Linked DNA regions of Homo sapiens. The protein of the gene in region 5 interacts with the protein of the main gene of each other region in a pairwise test. Each region holds a gene or a part of one and is shown on either strand. Other genes may lie near its edges. The genes, in order: USP33, MSMO1, SLC5A6, RTN1, CHRM5, EPB41L1 and EPC1.

Evidence for each region.
Region 1: the proteins of CHRM5 (region 5) and USP33 interact in a two-hybrid assay, tested with the Homo sapiens proteins (one large-scale study listed by BioGRID and IntAct).
Region 2: the proteins of CHRM5 (region 5) and MSMO1 interact in a two-hybrid assay, tested with the Homo sapiens proteins (one large-scale study listed by BioGRID and IntAct).
Region 3: the proteins of CHRM5 (region 5) and SLC5A6 interact in a two-hybrid assay, tested with the Homo sapiens proteins (one large-scale study listed by BioGRID and IntAct).
Region 4: the proteins of CHRM5 (region 5) and RTN1 interact in a two-hybrid assay, tested with the Homo sapiens proteins (one large-scale study listed by BioGRID and IntAct).
Region 6: the proteins of CHRM5 (region 5) and EPB41L1 interact in a two-hybrid assay, tested with the Homo sapiens proteins (one large-scale study listed by BioGRID and IntAct).
Region 7: the proteins of CHRM5 (region 5) and EPC1 interact in a two-hybrid assay, tested with the Homo sapiens proteins (one large-scale study listed by BioGRID and IntAct).

What each region holds. Positions count from the first base shown.
Region 1 is NC_000001.11:77,695,487-77,698,169, forward strand, and holds the end of USP33 (ubiquitin carboxyl-terminal hydrolase 33), read right to left. Parts: intron 2,446-2,683; coding exon 2,377-2,445; intron 1,989-2,376; coding exon 1,831-1,988; 3' UTR 501-1,830; downstream 1-500. UniProt on the Homo sapiens protein: Deubiquitinating enzyme involved in various processes such as centrosome duplication, cellular migration and beta-2 adrenergic receptor/ADRB2 recycling.
Region 2 is NC_000004.12:165,337,669-165,340,666, forward strand, and holds part of MSMO1 (methylsterol monooxygenase 1), read left to right. Parts: intron 1-120; coding exon 121-269; intron 270-983; coding exon 984-1,110; intron 1,111-2,552; coding exon 2,553-2,707; intron 2,708-2,998. UniProt on the Homo sapiens protein: Catalyzes the three-step monooxygenation required for the demethylation of 4,4-dimethyl and 4alpha-methylsterols, which can be subsequently metabolized to cholesterol.
Region 3 is NC_000002.12:27,205,769-27,209,268, reverse strand, and holds part of SLC5A6 (sodium-dependent multivitamin transporter), read left to right. Parts: intron 1-1,478; 5' UTR 1,479-1,618; coding exon 1,619-2,011; intron 2,012-2,326; coding exon 2,327-2,392; intron 2,393-2,734; coding exon 2,735-2,786; intron 2,787-3,175; coding exon 3,176-3,243; intron 3,244-3,500. UniProt on the Homo sapiens protein: Sodium-dependent multivitamin transporter that mediates the electrogenic transport of pantothenate, biotin, lipoate and iodide.
Region 4 is NC_000014.9:59,598,630-59,601,776, forward strand, and holds part of RTN1 (reticulon-1), read right to left. Parts: intron 1-3,147. UniProt on the Homo sapiens protein: Inhibits amyloid precursor protein processing, probably by blocking BACE1 activity.
Region 5 is NC_000015.10:34,065,228-34,067,958, reverse strand, and holds the end of CHRM5 (muscarinic acetylcholine receptor M5), read right to left. Parts: 3' UTR 1,988-2,731; coding exon of another isoform or gene 1,946-1,987; 3' UTR 501-1,945; downstream 1-500. UniProt on the Homo sapiens protein: The muscarinic acetylcholine receptor mediates various cellular responses, including inhibition of adenylate cyclase, breakdown of phosphoinositides and modulation of potassium channels through the action of G proteins.
Region 6 is NC_000020.11:36,227,740-36,230,519, reverse strand, and holds part of EPB41L1 (band 4.1-like protein 1), read right to left. Parts: intron 1,189-2,780; coding exon 1,180-1,188; 3' UTR 1-1,179. UniProt on the Homo sapiens protein: May function to confer stability and plasticity to neuronal membrane via multiple interactions, including the spectrin-actin-based cytoskeleton, integral membrane channels and membrane-associated guanylate kinases.
Region 7 is NC_000010.11:32,270,705-32,274,158, reverse strand, and holds part of EPC1 (enhancer of polycomb homolog 1), read left to right. Parts: intron 1-120; exon of another isoform or gene 121-237; intron 238-877; coding exon 878-996; intron 997-1,044; exon of another isoform or gene 1,045-1,076; coding exon of another isoform or gene 1,077-1,145; intron 1,146-1,991; coding exon 1,992-2,133; intron 2,134-2,241; coding exon 2,242-2,605; intron 2,606-3,454. UniProt on the Homo sapiens protein: Component of the NuA4 histone acetyltransferase (HAT) complex, a multiprotein complex involved in transcriptional activation of select genes principally by acetylation of nucleosomal histones H4 and H2A.

The DNA.
Region 1 (2,683 bases), on a different chromosome or scaffold from region 5:
TTTGAAACCAGCCTGAGCAAAATAGCAAAACCCCATCTCTACCAAAAAAAGAGATAAAAATTAGCCAGTCTCATAACCCAGTCTCAAAATAAATAAAAATTTTAAAATAAACTGGCTGGGCACAGTGGCTCACACCTGTAATCTCAACATTTTCGGAAGCCAAGGCAGGTGGATCACCTGAGGTCAGGAGTTTGAAACTAGCCCAGCCAACATGGTGAAACCCCATCTCTACTAAAAATACAAAAATTAGCTGGGTGTGGTGGCTCATACCTGTAATCCCAGCTACTTGGGAGGCTGAGGCAGGAGAATCACTTGAACCTGGGAGGCGGAGGTTGCAGTGAGCCAAGACTGTGACACTGCATTCCAGCCTGGGAAAGGGTGAGACTCTGTCTCAAAAGAATAGATAAATAAAATAAAATAGGAACAGCAAGAAGGTATTAATATTAACAAACTTTGCACCTTTTACCTTTAACATCTATCAAATAAATTCAACATTCAAGTTTTACATTTTAAAGACATTTTTATTGAGCTAATTTTAACAACATTGCTTTAGCTGGTGACAGCTGCCCCAAACCAAAACAAAGCCATCATGAATGCTATTCAACATCCTCAATGTAATCCAGTATGTTTTTGTACTTGGAATATAGTTAAACTTTTGACATTACATAATCAAGCAAATAGCAGTGCATACTATATTATTCAAAAAGACTTTATCTATTTCATTTAAAAAATCAAGTTGCAAGTGGCCTCAGCTTTATCAACAATCGTAGTGACACATTCCACACTTCATGCTCTCAAAATAAAAAGTGCCCTAAAACTAACTCTAAGTTTTTTAGTCACTGACATTAATACTAACCAGGTTACAGGAATTGAAGTTTAACATTGTACAATATAAGCGGCAATAAGTTACTGATATCTGCTGACAAATTCCACTCAAACTAAATATATCCTTGATACATTCAAAAAGACATTTTGTAAATTTTAATAAGCTAGTTAGTGTATATGCTGCAGTGCAAAAAAAGTGACACCCTAGTTTCCTGAGCTTTAGGAAATTAACAATTTTCTGACTACTACTTTCAACTTAAAATAGGCTCTTTATTATATGAAGCCATGACAAAACTATACAATTAAATTGGGCTTTTGGAGAACTGAAAGACTGGTCAGAGTCAGGGTGATTTAGGACAATGAAAAAGTTTTCAAAGCAAAAGTATTTACAACACTACAAAGGATACTATGGATCTGCATGTAGTGTAAAGATTAAAGATAACCTACTGATTTCACAATTGTCCCTCCTCTTTCAAAAATATTACACTGGGCCAGGCGCTGTGGCTCACACCTGTAATCCCAGCACTTTGGGAGGCCGAGGTGGGTGGATCACCTGAGGTCAGGAGTTTGAGACTAGCCTGGCCAACATGGTGAAACCCCATCTCTACTAAAATACAAAAATTAGCCGGGCATGGTGGCAGGTGCCTGTAATCCCAGCTACTCGAGAGGCTGAGGCAGGAGAATCGCTTGAACCCAGGAGGTGGAGGCTGCAGTGAGCTGAGGTAACACCACAGCACTCCAGCCTGGGTGACAAAGCAAGACTCTGTCTCAAAAAAAAATTACACTGAAAGACTTTATGGTAAGTATTTAAAACTAAATATACCAACCTGTGGTATATTACACATTTTAATATATTCTTCCATAATGCCCACTAAGAAGAAATAAATGGGATAAATGATGAAAAAAAATAAAGCAAATAAACACGCTTTTAGGAATGTTTTCGCATGTGTACATGTCAGGGCACATGAAAATGATTCCTCATTAGAACTCTCTACATCCTAAAAATTACAAAGACCGAGTTTCTACTTCAATTTTTTCTTCTGCTTGAAGTATATCTGGATCAACATGAACAACCGGAGGTCGCAGGATAACTTCAGGCCCTCCACCATAAATAGACTGCAGAAAATTCCATGTTTCTTCAGAAATCTGGCCAGAATCTGCTCCTTAAAATTACGTAGAAGAAATAATGTTTACAAACCTATATATTCATATTGCAAAAGCGTTCATAATGTACCCCCCAGCATGAATCTTCTCGGGATAATTGAGAACTTCTGGAACATGAATCTGCAGACTACCAGCCCATATTGTTATAAGCTGAAACATATGGCTTGTCTTAAAAAGTCAGAGATGCTTTTGCTTTGCTCTTAACAACAGCCTTAAGACCTTTCCTCAGATAAAAAAAAAGTGGCTGCTTTTCATTACTTGCCCTAGTTAATGTATGGATTACATTCTTCAGTTGAATAAAAAAGTACTATAGATGACTAATGATAACATATTTCTAACAGTGACAAATCACTCACAAGTAAAAGCTTAAATACGAGTCAAACTTACCTTGCCTAAGCATCACATTACCACATTTAGTGACTGCAATCTTAGTATTGTCAATAGGACCTGGAGGATCTAAAGGAAAAAATATCAAAATGTATTTTTCAAAGAAATGTAACAAAAAATTGCATAATTTTGTGCTTGACAAAATTGTGACCTATAACTACATTATCAGACTGGTTATTTCTCAGGCAAATTATTATAGTTAATTCTTTTTTTTTTTTTTTGAGATGGAGTCTCGCTCTGTTGCCCAGGCTGGAGTGCAGTGGCACCATCACAGCTCACTGCAACCTCCGCCTTGGGTTCAAGTGAT
Region 2 (2,998 bases), on a different chromosome or scaffold from region 5:
TTATATAAAGTTAACATAACTGACGTAGAATTAAGGTCCAACATAAACAGAGAACAAATTAGGTCAAGTTAAACTCTGATAGCAGAGACTAATATTAGATATTGTGATTTTTCTTCGTAGGATAAGCCAGAGACATGGGAAAACCAATGGAAGTGTTTCAAAGTTCTTCTCTTTAATCACTTCTGTATCCAGCTGCCTTTGATTTGTGGAACCTATTATTTTACAGAGTATTTCAATATTCCTTATGATTGGGAAAGAATGCCAAGATGGTACGTAGATAAAAATTTGGCTTTTACACCCAATTGTGGCTTATTCAGTTAAGTTATACTTAATGTTTACCCGTTTTCTTAATTTTAGTTAATGTTTGTTCTAAACTTTGGAAGTAAATAAATAGTAGAAAAGTAAACCACAGTAAAATCTTAAAATGTTTCCATTTTTACATCTTTTAAATATTTTATTGGAAGGTGAGCTTCTAGTATCAGAAGTTTCCATAACGTCTTTTGTATGTTTATATACATGTATAAGTGCTTATGTTGACAAAAATATATTACATTTTAATTTTAAAATGAATGAAATATATGAGAATCATTTATGAGGTTTATAGAAATTGTGTTTACATGAACAAAAATATGTATGTGTATATATATATATATATATATATACACACATATATATATACACACACATATATATACTCATGCGTCACTTAACGGATATCTCTTGAGAAAAGTGTCATGAGGCAAGTTGTGTGAACATTGTAATGAAATGAAATTGGTCTAATGGGCAGTCTCTTTAACCTTATATCAAGTTATGTAGCTGTATCTGGTGGTTTTGAGAATTTATTTATGAATATATCCAATTAGGTCAACCTGGTAAGTGGGTGGGTGGTTTTATGTAATGTCTCAAGCAGTGATCCCAACTAAAAGTCTGGATAGTTTAAGTAAAAATTATTTCTTACACATTACAACATTTTTATCTTAAAGGTATTTTCTTTTGGCAAGATGCTTTGGTTGTGCAGTCATTGAAGATACTTGGCACTATTTTCTGCATAGACTCTTACACCACAAAAGAATATACAAGTATATTCATAAAGTTCATCATGAGTTTCAGGTATGTGAGAGTTATATTTAATTCTTTCTGTTAGAGGCAAAATGTCTATTTTAATTGCCTGAGCATTTTTCTAAAATTGTTGGTGACGTTTTTATTTTCTTTTCCTTTGGCATGATTATTAAGAACAATACACACACATACAAACAAGCCATTTCTACACATTGTTTTCATTATTTAAATTTCATGGTAAATTGAGATCTGAAAGAAAAATATTATATGAAAGTTCGGACTTCCATCCTTGTGGACAGTGCTACACTGGCACAGCTAGATCCTCACATTGCTAACTCCCACAAAAACAGTAACTTCTATGAGCACTGCTTTTTTTTTTTTTTTTTTTTTTTTTGAGATAGAGTTTTGCTCTTGTTGCCCAGGCTGGACTGCAATGGCATGATCTCAGCTCACTGCAACCTTCACCTCCTGGGTTCAAGCAATTCTCCTGCCTCAGCCTTTCAGGTAGCTGGGATTACAGGCATGCGTCACCACGCGTGGCTAATTTTGTATTTTTAGTAGAGACAGGATTTCACTATGTTGGTCAGGCTGGTCTCGAACTCCTGACCTCAGGTGATCCACCCGCCTTGGACTCGCAAAGTGCTGGGATTACAGGCGTGAGCCACCATGCCCGGCCAATTAGAATTGCTTTGATGTAGCTTTGTCAACTGGTTATGTGAGTATGTTTTGCATTGACCGTGATTACATGGTGTGCCAAATCAAGCCTCTCTTTATTAGAAGAACAAATATAAATACTTAAGTCAAAATTAGAGTTCAAGTCAATTATTTAATGCCTTTATCTTAAACCATCAAAGACAGCAAGATTTTATATCCCTAGACTTTTGATGTGGAGTAAGGTATTTTTATTGAGAATTGCTAGTATTATTTATAAGTGTATGACTAGATAAATCATCACTACATATAGAATCAATATAACTTTGTAAAACTTTATGCATAAATAGGATATATATATTAGTGAAGTCTCCAGTGAAGCAGAATCATTGGGGTATATATATGCAGAGAGAGATTTATTTTAAGGAATCAGCTCATGCAAGTGTGCGGCTGTCAAGTCTGAAATCTGTAAAGCAGGCTACAGACTAGAAATCCAGGTAAGAATTGTTGCAGCCTTGGGTCCAAATTCCATGGAGCAGCAAGTTGGAAACTCAGGCAGGGTTTCAGTGTTGCAGTCTCGAGAATCCTTCTTCAGGAAACCTCAGCCTTTTATCCTGAAGGCCTTCAAATGATTGGATGAAGCCCACCCTCATTATGAAGGGTAATCACCTTTACTCAGTCTACTGATTTAAATGTTAACAACATCTAAAAAATACCTTCACAACAACATCTAGACTGGTATTTAATCAAACAGTTGGATATCATAGCCTAGCCAAGTTGACACATAAAATTGACCATCACAATAGCTAAGAAATTAAGAATTTCTTATCTGTTTGTCTTAGGCTCCATTTGGAATGGAAGCTGAATATGCACATCCTTTGGAGACTCTAATTCTTGGAACTGGATTTTTCATTGGAATCGTGCTTTTGTGTGATCATGTAATTCTTCTTTGGGCATGGGTGACCATTCGTTTATTAGAAACTATTGATGTCCATAGGTGAGTATTAATTTCTGTTCAGGTATAAAGCATAATGAAATATATTTATTTTCATGGCCATAAGATTATCATATTTCTAAGGAGACTAATAGGAGAAGTTAATCTTCTTAATGTTATATTAAGAAAACATAACTGTTGGATAAAAGTTTAAATAATAGATGTTTTTACATTCTAGCCTATGCTGTTATAATTTTTATAGTGATAATGTGTTATTAGGGCAAGTATATATTCAGGACCAGCAATTTCCTTATCCTTCTGTAATAAACCTAAACTTAACTCATATTTGAAAAA
Region 3 (3,500 bases), on a different chromosome or scaffold from region 5:
TACCCCAGAGGATTGCCTTTGAAGACAATATGATACGCTTGGAGAACAGACAGGGTGGATGGTGAATCCCTAGACCTGGGTTCTAATTTATGCTCTGACAATAGTCGGCTCTGTGCTTTTGGAAAGGTCACTTGAACCATCTGAGCCTTAGCGTGTTTATCTGTGAAATCGTCAGTGGTGGGGGGTTGGTTGTAATAGTGGTGTCCAAAGATTTAAGATTTTAAATATTATGATCCCTTCCCTCTTTCTCTGAGGATTGTGGTGTATTCTTGGGGGATTAACATTTCTTGTGCAGGAGTTAGAAAATCAACTTTCAACTTTCCCATGTTTTCAGTTCCTTCTTTCCAACTCCCTCCCGCACAGAGTGCCAAGAGTACTTTAGGCTGAAAGGCTAATCCATCTAGGAATGCTGTTGAATATGAGCTCCCTCTTCCCTGTTCTGGAGCCTCTAGGGCTGAGTTGGAGTTTGGGGGCCATAGGGTGATAGGGCCATTTGGAACACAGCCATTGGTTCCCTGAAGGGGCCAGAACAAATGACTGCTGAGCTTCACCCCACCCCCAATTCCTGATCTCTCACCTCAGCTACTCATAGAGCCAGATCCTCAGCTCTGCAGCTCCAGGCAACTCTGCCTCAGAACAGGGATTGCTTCTCCAGGTAGGTGTCTGTCCCCAGCAGGATACGACCACTCTCTTTGGCTGGTCCCTTTGCCTCTCAGCTCCGTGACTGGGTTGCTTCTCTCCAGAATGGAGAATCGTCATTCTGAAACCCTGACTCCAGCATGGTGCCCTCTCACCTTTCCCCTCTCACTTTTGAATCCAGCCGCTCTTCCTGCGTCTGCTGTTGACTGTGATGTTGCAGGTAGAGGGGCTGAGAGGTGGGTGGCAGCACTTATCTAGTGGTGTTGGGGAGAACCTTAAGAAAGGGGTTGGCCTGGGGACGCCTGAAATGGAGTCTGTGGCTGCCACAGAGGCAGTCTCACTGATGATCAGTTAGAAGGGTGACACTGGGGATCACAGGAGGCGAGGGCCGAGGCCAGGGGCAGTAGGGGAAGCCCTGCTGCCATTAGTCTCCATGCTGTGTTTCCTGCTGGGCTGTGGCGCCAGGCTGGGCTCTGCTGGCTTAGTGTATTGTAGTGACTGGGTCTGTGCCTTCAAGTGGGGCTGGGAAATTCTGCTAAGAAACTTAGGCTAGAGTTTATTTTTCTTTTGGTACTCGGGTGGAGACCTAAGAAGGTTGTTGAATTTCACAGCTGTGCATACTCAAAGGTCCTGGCCAAGTTATATTGTCTCCTGGCTGTCGCACTCTGATGCTTCTCCCTCACTTATGTCCCCTACCAAACCCATACCAGGGCCTCTAGACCTTGAAGGGCTACCACTATGCTGGCTGGTCCACTTCTGATGGCATGCGATGTACAAGGCCCAAGGGTGAATGGCTACCAAGGCCAGATAGGCCTCACTAAGAGCTAATTCCTTTGCAGCTCACCCTGGACAGTATCACTCCGTGGAGGAAGACTGTGAGACTGTGGCTGGAAGCCAGATTGTAGCCACACATCCGCCCCTGCCCTACCCCAGAGCCCTGGAGCAGCAACTGGCTGCAGATCACAGACACAGTGAGGATATGAGTGTAGGGGTGAGCACCTCAGCCCCTCTTTCCCCAACCTCGGGCACAAGCGTGGGCATGTCTACCTTCTCCATCATGGACTATGTGGTGTTCGTCCTGCTGCTGGTTCTCTCTCTTGCCATTGGGCTCTACCATGCTTGTCGTGGCTGGGGCCGGCATACTGTTGGTGAGCTGCTGATGGCGGACCGCAAAATGGGCTGCCTTCCGGTGGCACTGTCCCTGCTGGCCACCTTCCAGTCAGCCGTGGCCATCCTGGGTGTGCCGTCAGAGATCTACCGATTTGGGACCCAATATTGGTTCCTGGGCTGCTGCTACTTTCTGGGGCTGCTGATACCTGCACACATCTTCATCCCCGTTTTCTACCGCCTGCATCTCACCAGTGCCTATGAGGTGAGCAGGGACAGAAGGGAGAAGTGCGTGGGACACGGGTTGGGGTGGAGAGGAGGGACAGGCACATAGGAAGGACCTGGGACCCTAGACCTCCTCCACCTAATGAGAGGGACAGAAAACTCATTGTGTGTTTATAATTCTTTCTCAGTGATGTTAGGTATAGGGGCAGGATTGGAGAGGAGGGTGCTATGCCGAGTAGGACTCAGAGTGGGTATGGGTTGGATATTCCCTCATGTTCCTGAGCATCTTGAGGGAATTTGTCTGTGAGTTGTCGGGGTGAAGTCAGGAGAAAAATCTTTTTTTCTGTATACCCAGTACCTGGAGCTTCGATTCAATAAAACTGTGCGAGTGTGTGGAACTGTGACCTTCATCTTTCAGATGGTAAGCAGAATGAGGATAGAAACCGAGCCTAGGGCATGTTGGGGGACCTGAACGCAAGCATGCTGAGGGAATTGGAGTCTCCCCTGCTCTCAGATTGGCAGGATTGAAATTCCTGCTAGAGGTTAGCATCTGTGAGGACCCCAGAGGCATCCTGCTGCCCATGCCTTCCAATTCCAGCACAGATACTGTGGTGGCAGCAAGCCAGAATTTGAGAGGAGAAGGAAGAGGGAAGTGAGCCTAGGTGAGGGGAAGCCATGGGCATATTGGCGCTGAGGCCCATCTTTCTTCCTCTCTCTTCCCACCATTCTCCGGCCCCCATCACATTTTTTCCACATGCAACAGGTGATCTACATGGGAGTTGTGCTCTATGCTCCGTCATTGGCTCTCAATGCAGGTGAGGAGTCACACAGCCCCTGGCTTTCAGCCGTGGTAGGTTAGGAAAGCACCTTTGGGAGAGGCAGATGGAGGAGCGTATGTGGAAAAGAACCTGACCTTGAATGGGGAATTAATTCACCGCTTGGGCCCTTGGGTGGGTCTCTACCAGAGGAAGGCTTGGTCCACCTCAATTGACAGCTAGTAACATGTTACCATGCCCTATCTGAACTGGTTAGTCAATATCTTTTGGTGGAGCTCTGCAAACATTTTTCTCCGTTGTGGTGAATGATTTATTTCATTGTTAATGACCAATGCTTTATCTCTGTGGCATGACGTGATTGCCCTACCAGGGCTTCTCCCCTGGGGAACCCTTTTCCAGGGATAAGAATGTGGCTTCTATGCTTACAGTGACTGGCTTTGATCTGTGGCTGTCCGTGCTGGCCCTGGGCATTGTCTGTACCGTCTATACAGCTCTGGTAAGTGCAGTAAGCCGTGGTGTGGGGAGGGGAAGGGATGAAGTAAGGAGGGGACATGGGAAGAGAAGGAAAAGAAGAGATAAGCTGAGAATATAGATGAGGAGAATAGGTGAAATTCTGGGGTGGTAAGATTTATGATAGGATTTAGCAGTGGGGATGGTATATGAAGGTAGAGGATGGGATGGGAATGATGTCAACAGGGTCACAGCAATTACATGCCTAATGGCAGGAGAGTCCCCTCACTGGTAGTATGTTCT
Region 4 (3,147 bases), on a different chromosome or scaffold from region 5:
ATGAATGTCAGGGTACTCACTCCTTCATGGGGCAGATGGTTCTATTATTGAGCAACTCTAATCATTACTCTTTTCCCTCATATTTCATTCAAATCTCAGAACTTCTAAAATTTCCATTCACTGCTCTTGAGAGAAAAAGGGAAATCCTACTCCTTTAGCAATGTTAGACCTCCAAGTATTTGAGAATGGCTATGGTGTCCTTTTAAAGTCATCTATTTTCCAGGGTAATCATCCCCAGCAAAGTTTGCTCTTCACTGCCCATTACTATCAGATTTCTAATACCACAGTACCCTGGTCATCTTTGTGGCATTACTCCAATGTATTAATGCATCTGTTAAAATGTCCAACCCTGAAATTGAACACAGATATGGGATGGCCAATATGGAATATAATATGACTGTTGCCTATGTTGATTTAGACTTTGTACTCCTACTAATAACAACTCAACTTGCATTGATTTTTTAAAGATGCTTCAGCACATCATTGACTCACATTTGGCTGTGACCAATCAAGCAATTAAAACCCCCGAGGTATTTTTTACATACACCCTTATTGTTACCCTCTCTCATCTATCCCTCGCCGCATTCTATATCTGTAAAGTTGACTTTTTAGAAACCTAAATGTAGGACTTCACTTTCCTTATTAATTTCATTTTATTGATTTCAATTCGGCATTCTCGCTTACTCAAGATCCCTTGATTCATTTTGAATCTTGAGCTTGCCATCTTCTGAATTTGCTTTTGCTTCAAACTGTACATCATCTGGAACTTTGACAAAGATATTTGATTTGTCTTCACATAGTCATGAGAAGTAATGGGGTTGAAAGTAATGGGATCAAAGGCAGAGCCCTGTGTCACATACCTTGGCCCAGACACATATTGGATGGATTAATGAACATCTTTAGGGTCTATTATTTCAATCTTCTAGAATTCTACCACCTGTGCTATCATCTGGATCATACATCTCCATTTTTTTCCACAAGGACACCAAGAAGACTTGCTGACTACCCCCACTAAAATCAGAATACTCACTGGCTAGGGAAGTCCATCTCATCTCAGGGTTTAGTGAAGATACACTGATCTATTCTGAGTATCTACAGTTTTACTAATTCATTCTGGATTTTTGCTTGAAATTAGGCCTTCAGTTTATCAAATATAACATCTAGAATCTTTCTTTCTTCTCATTTGAAGATCGTGACAGCTCCTTTCCAATTTGAGTTTTCAGGATGTCCTTTATTCCATGAGATTTATCAAAGGTCACCAAGAGAGCTTCTAGGTAAAATTACAAGCTACTTTGTCATTCTAAAACATAACTCACCTAGACATAGGGAATTGTATTCACTTAAAGCAGATTTCTTATTATGGTCTCACTTACTCGAAGCTTTAATTTCCTCTACAGTGTTTATTTTGCCTTTTGAAATTTGAGGCTTTTTTCCTCATTTTCAAAACTCTAAGAAGTGTTATTATGCATTATTAACCCCTATTTTAAGCTGGAAAACTGAGACAAACAAAGGTGAAACGACCTAGACAGGGTCACTCAGTATGGAGGAGAGACTGGCCCTGGTGTCTACTGGCCCAATCTGGGACTGTCCTCTACCTCCAAGCCCCATGAACCGATCTCTAAGCAGTAATCGGATGATGATGATGATGATGACAATGATATATAATATTGAGGGTTTCCTACATCCAAGTAAGAATACTTTACAGACATTACCTCATTTAATCACCAAGAACCCTGTGTGGTATTAACATTTCCAATTTACAGATAAGGAAATAGGCTCATAGAGTCAAATAACATTTATGATGAGCTCATACAGCTAAAAATGCCAGAAATGGACTCAGTCTGTCTGATTCTAACAATCATGTTCTTAACTGTACCACTAAAGTGGTGTAAGTTCTTTTGCTGGAATTATTTATTCTAAGGTGGAATTACAATTTCAGAGGTTGAAGAGGACTTAGAGTTAAGATCCCACCAAGAAATTTCCTTCAAAATGTAGTGCCAGGCAAAACAGGTTATTTGGAAGAATTGTTGTTTCCTCCTCTCTGATAGATAGTGAGAACCATGTGACTTGCCTAGTTTCTCTTTTTGTCCTAGCTACCAGGAAATTCAGAGCCAACTCTGCCTGAAGCTCAATTACAGAAGCCATATTAGTCATAGGTAACATTTCCTTTCCATTCCTTTTCACAGCATTGATTTCCAATTGTAATTTAACAAGTACATTGTATATACTTTATATTCTCTGCCATCTCTCTTTTCCCTCCATTTTAACCAGGCCATGCCCTTGTCACTTTTATTTGAATTATGATAACCTCCTAGCTGATGGCCACATCTCTAGTCTCTCCCCTCTCCAATTCTTTTCTCACTAGACTGCCATAGTGATCTTTAAAAAACATAAATCTGATGATATCAATCCCCTGCTTAAAAACATCAAGGGGTGGCCATTTCCTGCTGGGTTGGAATCAAAACTCCACAGAGCATTCACCACCTGGCCTCAGCCTCTCTTCCTACATTCTTTCCAGTTGATCTTTCGACTCAGTTAAGCTCTAGACATACTGGTTGACTGTTGCCTATTAAACATGACTTACATTTTCATGCTTCTCTGTCTTTGCTTTATTACCTCTTCCTCTTGCAACGTCTTTCCCCTTATCATCCACGTGATGACTGTTTACCCATCCTTCAAGGCCCAGGTTGAATGCCACCTTATCTTAATGGCTTTCCACTATCCTGTCCAGGAAGGAACAATTGTTTCCTCATCTCTCTGACTTTAGTATTTCATATAGCTCTACTGTACTTATTATATTTTATTATAGTTATTTCTGTATAATTTTGTCTGCACCACTGGGCTAAGAGCTCTTTTAGGGCTGAGATCATTTCATTTATCTTTATACCCTCTGTACCTATCATATGAAGTGTCCAGAACATAACAGGTACTCCTCTTTTTGGACTCAACCAACAAACCAAATGAAAAAGTAATAGGTATGATTTGTGATACTCAAACTAAGTATTGGACAACTTAGGTCTAGAACTTCTATCTTCCAGTTTCCAAACTCCTATTCTGGTATTCTTTGCTATAGTTTATGAACACAGTTCTAGTTGCCAAAAAGTCACCTGAAGAGTTCATTAAAATATACATTCCAGGTTACCAATC
Region 5 (2,731 bases):
ATTAAACTTTTTTCCCTTCTTCCGCTCACTCTCGATCTGGGGTCTTTATTGGGCAAGAGTTTACATAATCTTGAACTTTACCAGTAAAATGATGTGGGGAAGATGGAAATTAGTATCACTTACAATGGGAATGGAGTGGGGCACCGACTCTTTAAATAGTTGACAAGGAAATGCTGCTGCCCCTTTTTGTGCAGTCTCCACTCGGTAAAGGACTGTGGTTTCAGGTCTGCCCCACCTCCCTTGTCCCATAGGGAAGGGAAAGCGTTTTACTCACAGATCTCTTGTCATCATTATTTAATCTTAGTTTGGTCATTGGTAACTTAGAGGGAAGGAGGAATCACAAAAGGTAGCAAGAAGGACGTGTATCCATACTGTGTATCAATCCCAACTTTCTTGAAAGGCCAGGCCATGCAAAGGTGTGTGGGAAACCCAATATAGATGGATCTAATAGGCTACTCTGAAACAATTTTCTTATTTAAATGCTCTGCATTGGACCACTGTGCGGTTAAATTTCTTTAATATCTAGAATAGTGCTTATACAATACAGAAAAGCAGCCCAGTCCCCATATCCTTTGCTGTAATTCCAGTATTTACAGTAGACAACTGGAGATTCTAATCCAGAGGTTTGGGTACAGATTTCACAATTACAAAGAGCTGGCATCAGTATTGTCTTCAAAGGACATTCACCAAAGGAGCGAAGCAAAAGCTGAGAATATTGACAAAATGCTTTGTTCAACCAAAAATTGAATGGAAAACAGATTCCCTGACAAGTCATCAAATTCACAGCCAAGGGGAAACAAATTACAATGATAGCAAAGTAACAGCATCCAGTAGGTAACTAGCCAAAGTCATACATGGTTTACTATAGACAAAGCCTGGAAGACTGGGGGCATAGAAGGCCTAAGATCTCAAGTCAGGCCATGCGCCTCCCACCCACCCATCAGGTCCCTGTAGTTTACAATTAGGTCTATTCATTCTGAGGACCCCACTAAAGCCGCTATTCTATAGAAGTCTAGTTGTCCCTAGTAGTTTGGGATATTTTTTGTCTATGTCAAGAGGCATAGGTAGTCTGCAAAACTGGCTGCTTTCCAAAACCAATGATAAAAAAAGAAGCATTGACCTCTCTCTCTCTCTTTTTTTTTTTGAGGCAGGGTCTTGCTCTGTCACTTAGACTGGAATGCAGTAGTGTGATCATAGCTCACTGCAACCTCTAACTCCTGGGCTCATGCGATCCTCCTGCTTCAACCTCTGAAGTAGCTGGGTCTACAGGCACACACTACGATGCCCTGCTAATGCCCAGGTATTTAAAATTTTTTTTGTAGAGACAGGGTCTCCCTATGTTGCCAGGCTGGTCTTGAGCCCCTAGGGTCAAGCAGTCCTCTTGCCTCAGCCTCCCAAAGTGCTGGGATTACAGGTGTCAGCCACCACACCCAGCAATACACTTCTTAATCAATTTCACAAAAGATGAACAAAAAAGGCCAAGTCCTAAGCAAGTGCGGAGTGTGCGAGGAGTGCCCTCCATGGCATCCTTTCCCGATTTGTGTTCTTTTGTTTAAATTAGCTTGTTTCACTCTCAACTGCGAATGGTGAATGCCCAACATGGGCTTAAAAGCCTATTCTCATGAAGGGGTTTTCATCTTTATCAGGAATCAAAGCCTTAAACGAAGACTCAACTGTTTATCTGGCGCTGGTAGAGCAGGTTTGCTCATGAAGTCACACCCAGTTGGCATCACGGAGGCCCGAAAGCCTCTGTGCTGGAGAACTGAGCCAATTACTGTTCCCACCGAATTCTTTGCAGGTGTCAACCTGCCCTTTACAAAGGCTCAGCAGATGCACTGCTTACAAGATGTTTCATGTCAACGTGAAGTCTTTATAAGGGACCAGTCCCGTCCTGCCTGAGATTCTACTACCCTGAAGCCTCCGTGGGACATCCTGTGAGAGGCTGATGATGCTCTTCAGTGGTAGGCTGAAGCTCTCCCATACTCAGGTACATATCTAATTCCCAGGACAACTAAACCAGCTAATTTTCCATCCTCTTAGCAAATGAGACTGAAAAGGACCCGGCCTACACTAAGACGCATGAAGTCTGGTGATTTTTAAGTCCAGCTGCAGATGTAACCAACGAGTTAAATAATGTCTGACAGGAGTGCTTCATCTTTAAAATCCTTGCTGTGTACCACACTACTGCTTCTTTGTGGACTTTTGTCCACAAAGGTCCTTTGATTCCGTTTGTTTATACGCACTTAGAGATTTCAATTAAGTGTGGTTTTTAATAATCCTCATGCTGTCATGCATGTCAACTGTTTTATTTTTATGTATTACTATGACCTACACTTTGTTTTTAAAAATGAAGCTTTCAGATCATTTTCAGCTTCATCGCACCCTCAAGTGTGCTTTTCTGGCCTTCTCATTTGTGACCGAATTTGGAGAGGAATAAAGAAGTCATTTTTAGGCCCTGATTTGAAGGACCTATAAAAAAAGACTTTCTACCCCCACCTCACCCCACAACCCCCTGCTTGGAGGCAGCACAGCTGACCTGCTTGCGTCTTGGTGTGAACTGGGGATCTGAACAAGGGAAATTGGAGGCTGCAAAAGGGCTCTGGAAGAAATTCAAAAGCAAATCTGTTTTCCACATTTTGCTCAGGTTTGCCCTGTGAAGAGATTAGAAAGCAAGATCTCTGAAAACAATATAAGAACCTTAATTCAACAGCCTGGAGAAAATCTTCAGCCA
Region 6 (2,780 bases), on a different chromosome or scaffold from region 5:
TCCCCACCAATCAACCAATTACAAACACCACACACAGTATTACTACACTGAACCCGTCAGCCCCTACTGTGAGCCAACCCACACCCAGAGTCCAGGTCTCCTTAGCTGGGCCAGTTCAGTGAGATCTAGGAACCTCAGGATACATCAATCACAGTCAGATAATTATAATTTTAGAATGTCAGCTTCATACTTACCAGCACTGTTTATTTTAATATTTTTTCCTGTTATATGTAATATACATAACTTCAAAGCACATCCGTACAAACCTCCTACAAGCTGCACCTTCATAATGAGAAACCATAAGCATACAATGTCTACTTCCCTTCCTGTGGCTTCGTTTTCTGTTCTTGCTTTCTTTTCTTTTTCTCATTTCAAAGGAGAGTCATCTGCAGTGGCCCTCAGAAGGACCAGGACACAGAGGGTGAAGGGTGTGGGGTGGGGGAAGGGGGAAGGGGGAGGAGGGAGCCGAGACAGAAAATGACAGCAAGACATTGAGAGTTGAGGGTGAGGGGAGGCGGGAGAGAGGAAGGTAGGTTTTGCAGCCCAGTGTCAAGATCCAGAAAGTAAGAATCCAGTGTTCCTCCTCTTTCTTTCCAAGTGGGGAATTTTCTTTTTTTCTCGGAAAATGGTTGACTGTGCGTGTCTTGCTGCTGTGACTTCTCTTGCTTTGCTGTGCAAGTGTTTTCCTTTGCATTCAAGTGGGCCTTAGAGATGCTGGAGAAGAACAAATGGAATTGCTCGTCTGCTAACTGTAACGTGCAGAACCAGGGCGGGAGGGACTTCTACAATCATCGTGGTCTGGCTTGCGTTTCTTATTTGGCGGGGGAAAGGGGTGAGCAAGGGATTATAGTTATTATATAATTTTTTTTCTTGAAAAAAATCCCACCAGTTCTTCAATTTGTCTGCAAAGGAAATGTAGGTGTTCAGATGTCGGTTGTTGCTGTCAGCCAACTGCTCTGCCAGCCCCAGCAGCAGTGCAAGGATGCGGTGTTTCCTGTATATATATCTATATCTCTATATATCTATATATATATGCTTTTCCCTTCCCAGTCTCTCATCAGTGACAGTACGTCGCAGCTGGGACGTCAGTGTTGCGTCGGAGAATCCAGAATGAAGGCCCCTTCTTAATGGTTCTCTGGCTTGGGTTGGACCAGAAATGCCAGGATCTCTTCACAGAGGTCAGGATTCCTGGAAGCCAGAGGCATGGGGTAGAATGGGGGGTGGGGAGTGGGGGGAAAGGAAGGAAGAGGACAAGAAAAATTAGTAACTTCTGTCACTTGTTTTAAAATACATGGCAAGAGGTTGTTTTTGCTACCCTTTACCATATGCCCTTTATTGTGACTCAGCAAGGTAGAGTGACTTGCACCTGTAATCCCAGCTACTTGGGAGGCTGAGGTGGAAGGATCTCTTGAGGTGAGAAACTCAAGGCTGTAATGTGTAATCATCATGCCTGTGAGTAGCTATTGCACTCCAAGGCCACGCAGCTTGTGTGTGGCAGCAGAGAACCGAACCCACATCTGTTGGATTCCAGAGCCCATGTGTGTTTGCTCGCTTGTTTCCAGGGAGGTGGTAATCTTTTACTTTGGCCTGACAATGTGTTAAAATGTCCTTTAACACCGAGAAGCTAAGATCATCATCATTTTACTTTTTCTTCCTATCTTGTCAGCTCTAAGAAATGTTTAGTCACGATTGCAGATGTTCTTTTTTCATTTGGTTTTCCTTTCTGTTGTCCGTGGGCTTGCTGTGTCCTGGAGATTAAACCACAGACAGCAGTGTTTAAATAAAGAAATGAAGTCTGGATTCCAGGTTTGGCTCCAAAACTCAGTGTTTAAAGGAGCAGGCTCTGAAATCAGACTCCCTGAGTTCAAATCCCACTCTATGGGCCTGCTAGCTCTGTAATCTTGGGTGAGTTTCTTAACTTCCTTTACTTTAAACAGTTTTTAACAGACGAGTCTTACTATGTTGCTCAGGCTGGAGTGCAATAGCTATTCACAGGCACAATCAATGCACATTACAGCCTTGAATTCCTGGCTGCAAGTGATCCTTCTGCCTCAGCCTCCCAAGTAGCTGGGATTACAGGTGCACGCCACAGTGCCTGGCAAGTTTCTTAACTTCTTTAAGCCTCAATTGCTTCCTCCGTAAAATAGGTTCTGCCTCCCATTATAGGGAGGAACTGAAGCAAGGGCCCAGCATATAGTAAGTGCTGAATAAATACTGGCTGTTCTTATTATGATGATTGTTGCTGTTGTTAATTTAACCACACACTACTCTGATCTCCTTGAGGGTAAGGGCTATCTTTTAACTCTTGTCTTTCCAGTGTTCAACACTGTGCCTGGCACATAGCAACTACTCAAAACCATTTAATGGATGAAACATCATTTCTGCTACTTGCATGCAGTCGAGTGCTAACGGAATCACAGAAAATGGATCTTTCTTGGCTCATTTGACACATAGGAAAACCGAGGCCCAGAGGCTTCAGGCTTAGTAAGTTGGCAAAACCAAGACTAAAACCCAAGGTTCCTGTTTTGGAACAGGTCAATTTTTTCCCATTAAATTTTGGAAGGTTAGGAAGCTAGGCAAGTGCTGCCCTCTTGCTGGTGGTGTTTGGGAGACAGGTCCTCTCTGAAGGAGGTGGGCCAGTGGGAGAAGATGGAGCAGAAACCAGACGTCTGACCTGCAAGGTTGCAGGGAGAGAAGGGAAAAGGTTCTGTGTGACATGAGTGACTTTCCACGCTCATAGCAAGAACTTCAAGAAGGAAGAACTTTAAGAAGGAAGACAG
Region 7 (3,454 bases), on a different chromosome or scaffold from region 5:
ATTGTATGTGCTTTTTTTTTTTTTAATTGGCAAAAAAGAGAAAAAGGTTTCCTTTTTAAAAACTGCACACACTTTTTTGGGGGGGTAATAAATGAACATTTTTTTGTTTGTTTTTTTTAGAACTGAGCTCTCCATAGACAAACATAAGTAGCATAACACAGTGTCTTTCCTCAGACATCATTCTGTACAGTAAATCAACATAAACAACTCCGTTCTTATTGACTGGATTTTTTCCAGGTGGGTTAATTGGGTGGGGAAAATTAATTAACCTTAACATTAGAGCCTCTTTTCTTCCTGTTAAACTTAAAGGATGAGTTCTTTAAAAAAAAGCAATAAACCAACCAACAACTGTAATCTTTCATATAGAGCAAATTTTTTTAATGACTACAATTAGAAAATATGTAGAACTATTAGTATATATACACAGAGCCATTAGGGATCATCTGAATGCCTTGGGAAGATATGGATTAAATAGAAACCAAATGTAATTATCAGATATTCTCTCAAGCTCAGTGCAAAGCTGAATTCCAAATCTATGGATTTTAAAAGCTGATATTATCTTTCTACACTGTGTAGAACAAGTGTCACAGCTTAAAAAAAAAATAGTGGTGTTGAAATTTGGGAAGTGAGCAGTTCTCTTTCCTGTGTTTAATTCAGGAAGTTTAATTTTTTTTTTCTTTAAATTCATGCCACTCTTGTTAAATGTGGTAGCAGAAACGCAGAAATTTTCATTTGGAAGTGATCTTTAGCAGGATCATGATCCTTTGTCAGATGCTTCAATTTTGCACAGATTTAATGCAGAATTTTTGTTTTAGTACTGTAAGACATACATGACAGCTGGGCATTTTTATAAAGTGTTTCTTTATTTTATGTTCAGCATTTACAGCCGAACAATACCAGCAACATCAACAGCAACTGGCACTCATGCAGAAACAGCAGCTTGCACAAATTCAGCAACAGCAAGCAAATAGTAATTCCTCCACCAACACATCACAGGTGAGGGATTTGTCTGTCTTATGATTATCCCTCATTGTTTCCCACCAGAGTTCATCTCTAATTACCAACTGTTGTCATAGAACCTTGCATCTAACCAGCAGAAAAGTGGCTTTCGCCTGAATATACAGGGTTTAGAAAGAACACTACAGGTGAGTATGGAAGCTGTTGCCTCTGCTCCCTATTTTAAAAAGTAAAACTAAAGCACTTAGTTAAATGAGATGAAGATACTGTCTTCCCGTCTGACCTGTAGTCCATTAATGTACCTCTTGAATATATAACCCCACCCAGTTCATTCTCTTGGGCATGTTAATTATTATTAAGGCTTTTAACATTATGCAAAAATAACCTCTCCAACTGTTGAAAGAGATAACTTTTAAACCTAAAGCATGATAAACGTTTGCCAGTTAAACACATGTAGGGCATAAAGGCTGAGGTTTGAGTCCCTGCATCTTGCAGGAAAAATATATTTTTAAAAAGTTGAGGGGCCTATCAATTTCTAGGTTAAATTATGTGATATTTTGTTACTTCCATTTCTAAAGGGATAGTTATCTTATCCCAAAGGTGCCTTTCATTGTGTGTGTATACATATGTGTGTGTGTATAAGTTAGGTGAAGGAAGTTTACATATTCATTTATTCATTATATGGATTTGCAAATCACTGAAATGTTTACTAGCATATTTCTTGTCCAACATTTTGTGTTGGAGGTTTGCTGTTTCCACATTATAGAAGGCTTATTTTGGTAATTGACTTATACATATTATATATTGTCACATATGAAGCAAAATTTATAACTTAGATTACTTTTCACTTATCAAATATATGACTATCAAAAGAGATATAATTACTGTTGCATCTCAAGGTACCAAAATAGAAAGATTTCAGTGGTTTGCCATTTTTACTTATATTCAAACTGATTTTGGTATGCATGTGTAGTTTTGATATTGATTTGATACTAAGTGATACTGATTAGATTTCTTTTGTATTTTCTTTTTAGGGTTTTGTTTCTAAGACTTTGGATTCTGCTAGTGCACAGTTTGCTGCTTCTGCTTTGGTGACATCAGAACAACTGATGGGATTCAAGATGAAGGATGATGTGGTGCTTGGAATCGGGGTGAATGGCGTCCTTCCAGCCTCAGGTAAGAATAAAGACATTTAAATTGTTTGGGTTATATTTATAACATATATCTATAATATAAACAGCAAAGTTGTACATTGTTTAGATGTTTCTTTCTTTTTCTCTCTAGGAGTATACAAGGGCTTACACCTCAGTAGTACTACACCAACAGCACTTGTACATACAAGTCCATCAACGGCAGGTTCAGCTTTGTTACAGCCTTCAAATATTACACAGACTTCAAGTTCCCACAGTGCACTGAGTCATCAAGTAACTGCTGCCAATTCTGCAACAACTCAGGTTCTGATTGGGAACAACATTCGATTAACTGTACCTTCATCAGTTGCCACTGTAAACTCTATTGCCCCAATAAATGCACGACATATACCTAGGACTTTAAGTGCTGTTCCATCATCTGCCTTAAAGCTGGCCGCTGCAGCAAACTGTCAAGTTTCCAAGGTCCCATCTTCATCCTCTGTAGATTCAGTTCCAAGGTGAGTAGTTATTTTTGCCTAACATACCTGGAATAAGAGATCTAACTTCAGTCCTCCAGCATCGTTCTTTACCTATTTCTTTGTGTTTCTTGTTCTTTTCCTTTTATACATTGAAAATGTATAGTTGAGAATTGATCACTTATTTATTCAAGAACTAAACAGTTCTTGAACACTTAATTCAATATTAAGAATTTGAACTAACTGGTATAGTGAATGTTGCATATATGATTTGGAACATCCCTTTCTTACTATAACAATAGTTATACCAGGTGCAGTGGCTCACGCCTGTAATCCTAGCACTTTGGGAGGCAGAGGCAGGCAGATCACCTAAGGTCAGGAGTTCGAGAACAGCCGATCCAACATGGTGAAAGGCCACCTCTACTAAAAATACAAAATCACCCGGGCATGGTGGCGCATGCCTGTAATCTCAGCTACTCAGGAGGCTGAGGCAGGAGAATCGCTTGAACCTGGGAGGTGGAGGTTGCAACCAAGATCGCACCATTGCACTCTGGCCAGGGCAACAAGAGCTAAACTCTGTCTCAAAAAAAAAAAAAAGCGTATAATGCTCTCAGTTTTCTTCCGTCTTTGGATGGAAGGAGTTCTCCTGAGAGCGTTTCTTTTATGACTTTTTTTCCACAGCTTCTCATGTAAACAGGTAGAATTGATAGAAACCCCTGCCCCATCACTGGTATGCTAAGCTATTCTTTTTTTTTTTTTTTTTTTTTTTTTTTTGAGACCGAGTCTCGCTCTGTTGCCCAGGCTGGAGTGCAGTGGCACAATCTCAGCTCACTGCAATCTCTGCCTCCCAGGTTCAAGTGATTCTGTCTCAGCCTTCTGAGTAGATGGGAT